Linked DNA regions of Homo sapiens: region 1 is linked to region 2. A link means that fine-mapping ties the variant in region 2 to the expression of a gene that starts in the linked region. Tissue or cell type: sun-exposed skin. Region 2 holds a variant in brackets; the other region holds the start of a gene. All regions are shown on one strand. Distances are from middle to middle. Region 1 holds the start of TTC39A (tetratricopeptide repeat domain 39A). Region 2 overlaps TTC39A (tetratricopeptide repeat domain 39A).

The links. PIP is the estimated chance that this variant, and not a neighbour inherited with it, causes the effect.
Region 1: TTC39A starts here. The variant in region 2 is fine-mapped to the expression of TTC39A in sun-exposed skin (GTEx, PIP 0.98).

Annotation. Positions count from the first base shown.
Region 1 is chr1:51,328,913-51,331,815 of GRCh38, forward strand. TTC39A (tetratricopeptide repeat domain 39A) reads right to left here and starts at 1,650. Exons shown (of 18, transcript NM_001297663.2): 1 at 1,525-1,650. The coding sequence starts at 1,565. TTC39A-AS1 (TTC39A antisense RNA 1) reads left to right here and starts at 742. Exons shown (of 3, transcript NR_123731.1): 1 at 742-897; 2 at 1,218-1,301; 3 at 1,960-2,369. RefSeq lists a silencer at 1,623-1,692 and an enhancer at 2,510-2,559.
Region 2 is chr1:51,286,850-51,289,752 of GRCh38, forward strand. TTC39A (tetratricopeptide repeat domain 39A) reads right to left here. Exons shown (of 18, transcript NM_001297663.2): 17 at 1,990-2,106; 18 at 409-1,431. The coding sequence ends at 1,308. Among named protein-coding and RNA genes, the nearest start is that of TTC39A-AS1, 41 kb to the right of the region's middle. The variant G/A (reference allele first, on the strand shown) is at 1,291.

The DNA.
Region 1 (2,903 bases), 42 kb after region 2:
CTGCTGCGTGCGGCCCTCCTCTGCTCAGACCCCACCAGGATGACACTAGCCAGGGTTGGGGACAGATGGACAGGTGGCTTCAAAGAAGAGTGGGCAGGCATGCAGAGAGGCAGGTACGGTTCTGCATAAGGAAGACCCACCAGCGTGAGAAGAGCAAGCTTGCTGTCCTGAGGCCTGCAGCAGGGCCAGAGGTGCCCGGGGTTGTAGAGGGCACTTAGGCAGGGATGTAAGCATATAAGGAAGTGGGATGAATGTGGTTTTCAGCCAGGGAGTCTAGACTTCTTTGATAGATACCTTGCTCCATGCCCGCCTTCTCTCCTGGAAACCACTTTTCTGGACCCAGCAGGGTGGTGGTGCTCAGTCAGGGCTGCACAGAAGGAACCTACCCAACCTCCAGCTTTACAAATACTTGAGCCCAGAACAGGAAAGGAACAGCCAGCCCCACTTCTGTGTTTTCCAAAGGAGGGACCAGAAGTCTAGGAAGGGTTAAGGACTTGGCCAAAGTCACACAACAAAAATGATGAAGCTGAAACTCACCAGGCAACCCTCTCCCAGGCCAGGGTGTCCCCCAGCAACCCAGCTTCCAAGCCCTGATAGAGCCACACACACGCAAGCCCTGTGGAGACTTCCAGCTGCCAGCTGGCACCAGCCTCGTCACCTCCCTGTTCATGTGTCAAGCCTCGGGCCCTTAGCAAATATTGTCACTGGTGGTGAGGCTCCAGGCAGGGTGAGCCCTCCTCCCAGCTCACCTGGGCCGGCTCTCTGCCCAGCAACCTCCCAGCAGTCAGGGCTCCTAGCAGCTGCCCCCTGCCCTGCCCACTGGGGCCCAGGAAAAGCAGAGAGTTGCTGAAGGTCTCCCGGCAGTAGCGGCTGTCACTGCTACGGGGGGTGATCTAGGTAGGGGTCCTATAGGGGTTTCTCAGTGGGATGTGGGTAGGGTTGGGCAGGAGAGCCACGTTGAAGGTGACAACACCCACTTTTTACTACCCAGGTTCCTGCTGCACCCAATGGGCCCGGCTGGCCCATACCTTAGCTGTTTAAGTTCCCCTAATGTCCCTGAAGATGATGGGGTGGGGGGATCTGACAACAGACAGAACTGAGTTCAAATCCCACCCGCAACTCTTACCTCCTGGGTGACCGATGACAAGTCACTTAAGTGCTGTGTCTCAGTTTCCTCATCTGTAATGGGGATGAGAGTAACAGGGCCCACCCCACAGGAGTGAACGCCACGAGGCAGGTGGGGAAGGCTGCTCTGAACGTGTCTGTGACTACAGCTCCGTGAGAAAGTTGGGACCCAGAAGGTGAGTGACCGACCCGGGGTCCCCGCGCCTCCGCCTCCTCACAGCCCCCTGCCCCCACTCCTGGCAGCGGCGGCGGCTGCCAGGGGCCGGGCGGGGTGGGGGCTGGAAGCCGCAGTGCGGCCCCAGGCCGGTGCGCGGGGGGAGGCCTGGCGCGGCGCCCGCCACCTGCCCGGGCCCCAGCCCGCGCCGCCCGCGCCCCCGGGCCTCCCAGCCGCGCACTTACCCCGCGGGCAGGGCTCCTGGGGCGCCGCCAGCCGAGGTCATCGCCGAGGGGCGCGGGCGGCGCTGCCCCAGCCGGACGCCAATCGCGGCCCAGGTGCTGCCGCCGCAACCCCGAGCCGGGCGCTGTGCGGTCGCGGACGCGGCGGCCGGGGAGGGGCGCGCCGGGGGCGGGGAAGGCGGCGGGGCCGGGCCGAGCCTCGGTCTCCCCACCCGCACCGTAGGGCCATGGCCGCCCGCGGCGACCCGCGCTCCCGCACCGCCGGGGGTTCTGGGCGGCCCCCACCCCCGCTCCGACAGGTGAGAGCCCGGCGCCCTCTGCGCAGACACCGCCCGGGCCGGGAGCTCGCTCCCTCCTCACACGTCCCCACCTATTTGGCGCTAGAAGTTCTTCTCCGGGACCTGAGGTCCACTTTACTGTCACTTCTCCTCCCCACAGCTTCCGCCCCGAAGCGGCCCCCACCTGAGCCGTCACCATCCTCCCGCATTAATGGGGGCATTCGTGCAGACAAAGACAGCCCCCAGAGTCAGGCCTGGATTTTAATCCCACCATCTCGCCCACTGAGTGACTGCAGGAGACCAGAAGGCGGGGAAAACACGGTTTAGCACTCACTGCTAGCTGGCAGTTCACACTGCCTTCTCAAATGATCCCCATAATTGCTATTTTACAGATGGGGAAACTGAGGCATGGGGTTCATTTGATTCACGCATGGTCACTCACCTAATAAGTGGCAAGCTAGGACTGGAATCCATCCCTCCTGAATCCAAAGCCAACACTCTGGCCCCTTTCCCCCTTGGCCCCCTCTCCCCTGCATTCCCAGTGCCTGTGTGGGGGTCACCCACAACGCTCCCCAAATGTCCACTGTGCACCGAGCCCTGAGGCGGTGTCTCCACCTGACCTGATCTTCTGGCACAGAAAGCCACTGGCCCATGAAGAGTTAACCAGTCACCATCTCCTGGCCCCAGATGCTGCTCTTAACCATGACTCATCAGAGCATGTGGCTGCCATTAGAGCTGTCCCTTCACAAAGGAGGGGACAGAAGTAAGGAAGGACTGTAGCTCCCCTGGAGCAACTATGACCTCCAGGACGTCAGAAGAGGAAGCAGAAGGGGACAGCCTGCAGAAGCAACCACGGTGGGAACAGGACTTGTACCAGATCCCAGGGGAGCCAGGCAGTTTGGGCTTGGTGGTAGCTGCTTAAAATCTAAGCAGGCTGCCTGGAAAGGCAGTGAAGTCCCATCCTGCCCATTTGTGAGCAGGGGCAGATGCTCACTTGCAAGAATCATCCCATCTCTAGGAGTCTCATATACAGGCACGAAAAAGATAATTAACTACTAGAAGTAAGCTATGATGACATCCACCAGCAACTATAAAGAATCCAGA
Region 2 (2,903 bases):
ATCCTAGAGGTTGCAAATTCAGATGCTTTTAGGGGCCAGAAAGGTAACAGAAGTGTTTAAAGTAGCCTGGACTTAGCTCTAGCTGATTGTTGCCTCATGGGAATGAGGCTCAATGTTGCCATTTTTGTTTGTTTGTTTTTAAATTACAGGCCAGGAACCAGATTCATCTGTAAAATCTCCCCATTTGTGAATGCTGGTAACTTATTCAAAAAGTTTAAAACATTGTGTGGTCTAAATAAAACATACATAGGCCGTGTGGCTTCTGATCAAGACTTTCTGCCTGGCCTAAGGATTCATGCAACACATATTTTATTGAAATACATGATGCACGATCCCTTAAGGGCATAAATTTTATCACTTAAATATCTCTTTTCTCTTAACTGAAGAATCTAACGCATACACAACAGGTCAAGAATAACAGTTTTAACAAAAATGCTGTCAGTAAGCAAATGTACCTTGGAGTGAAGTACAGAAGATTTTTATGTTTCATAAATTATTCCCAGTGGTTTCAGTTTGGCATACAGCAAAGATACAGACTGGATTCTGAGAACCTCCTCCTGCCCCCCAAATTTCCTGGCTTTGGCATAGAAAGGGCTACACAGCTCTTCCATCAAGCCCTGGCATTTTCTACTGGTAGAGATTGATTTTTCTACAGAAGAGCTCAGATTTTATCTCACTAAAAAGACGTGCTTGATTTTTAAATTGGAAATTTACAAAAGGAGTGAAATGAAGTGTGAGTAGTAAGGTAGTGGGTGTCTGTGTACATCCTCATGCCCAACCCCAGAAGCATTGAAGCCTGAGGCTTAGCCTCTCCCAGGCATTCCTCAGGTCCTCTGAAGGACCTTCCGTCACACAAGCTGAGAACTTGCTGAATTTGAAAAGCAATTTGCCCTTTGGCATCATCATATAAAGAGATTTACCTCCAGATGATAATAGGTGAAGACAAAGACTTACAGGTGGTTGATTGTTGTTGGTTTTTAAAGCCAACTGTGATCCCATCAATGTATTTCTAAGGAAAATGTAAACTGTTCATACATTCTCTTAAACATCACAGTGAAAAGCAAGTACCCGTATGTGTGATAGGGCAGGCAGAGGGCTCCACCTGCTCTGCCCTTGGCAAAGGCCCTTGGCTACACTGGTGAAAATGCCAGCTCGGCTTCTGCACGGATACACTATGTTGTGCCATCCAACTGGAGTGCCGGTGGACCCCAAAGGCAGGGCAGGGCAGGGGGAGGGGGTATTTTGAAATGTTTTCAGGAGCTCTGTCCAGCTGTCTCTGTCTTCCAGCCC[G/A]GAACTGCTGCACAAAGCTACAAGGACACTGATGAGACCATGGATCTGCTGCTGTTCTCTAGGGAAGACTTGGCTTGGAGTGTGGCTGCCTGGATTCGAAAGTGTGTCCTTGACTCCATGGAGTAATTCTTGTAGTTTTGCCTGGAATTGAGCAGCGAATCAGACACATGAGGCTGCCTGCTCCCAGAGATGCTTTTCCTCCTGTTTGAGCTGTATGAGCCCCGCGAGCCAAGGAAGGATTGTAGAGAAATTAATGTGTCCAGAGAGAGTTGAGCCCTACCCAATGGGAGAGTTAACCAGAAGGGTTTGTGGCCCCTCATCCCTGGTATCATGGCCACTGGAACCACTCCTGGTCCTCCTGGGTTCCTAAGCTTGAAGGGGTGGTTTTAGGGAATAGACCCCTACCCTGGAAGGCAGGAGGCATGGGTCCTCACACAGCCATGCAGTTGGCTTCTGATGTGACCTTGGGAACTTACTTCCTGCCTCTGGGAGTCTAACTGCGCATTTATACATTAAGAAAGAAGTCTTCCTATGACAGGCGAGAGCTGGATTCCGAGGGACACAGGTCCACCCTCTAGACTGCCAGACTGGCCTTGCTAGCAACTCCACTCACTGCTCTCTGGGCAACTCTGTCCCCAGCCAGCTCCTGAGCTGAGTTCAGAGGGAGCAAAGGACAGACTGAGGTTACCCAAGCCTTACTTGGCAGATTCCAAAAGTTTGATGGCCTCTTCGTTTCTGTCTTGCTCCATAAGCAGCAGGGCCAGCTCCAGCAGGGCGTTTGGGATCAAGTAGTGGTCATATTTAATCTTCTTTTCACTGCAGAACAGAGGACATGGCTCAGGTTCCTCCTCCTGAGCCTCTCCCAAACTGCATGTGAGGATTTCCTAACCCGAACTCCAATTTTGGGAGGTTCCCACTACCCAGCCCTAGAAAGGCTGGGATCCATAGCAAAGCCTTCCCATCCTGTACCTTGGGCTCCAGCTCCCTGACAACCTATGGCTCCTGTCATGTCCTTAGTCCACCGCCACCTAAGTCCCGACCTCCCTTTCTCCAGGTTGAATGGTTTATTAAACTGTAAAGTCTCCTGTCTCTGATCTACCCTCTCTGACCCGACCTCCATGCTGTCCTGGAGATATCCTTTTAAACCCCAAGTCCTCCTTGCCCGGTACCCTTTCTGGCTGTCTTCTTTGGGATACAATTTAGCCTTGTGAACAAAACATCCAGGCCCTTCTCATTCTATCCCTCCTTTTTCATCTTCAATCTTTTCTCTCTATGACTTCACCCAGGCAGGTAAAGACCCCATCACCGTCACCCCAGCCTCAGATGTCTTTCCTGTGTCCATGCACTGGTGCATGCTGTACTTACTCCACTTCAAACCTGTCCTCCCTTGCTTTCTCTGCCTGATGAACTTCCCACTTTCAACATCAGCCTTGGAAAGCCTTTCCTGGTATCTCCCATTAAGTTTAGGTCCCTTCTTGGGGCACCTGCTGTCCTCTCCGCTTTCCTTTAGCATGGCCCTGACGAGCCTTGGTTGGGTTGCCTACAGCTTGCCATCTGTCACATTGCCCTCCCTGAGGGCAAGGATAGAGTCACCGAATTACAAACTCCAGGGG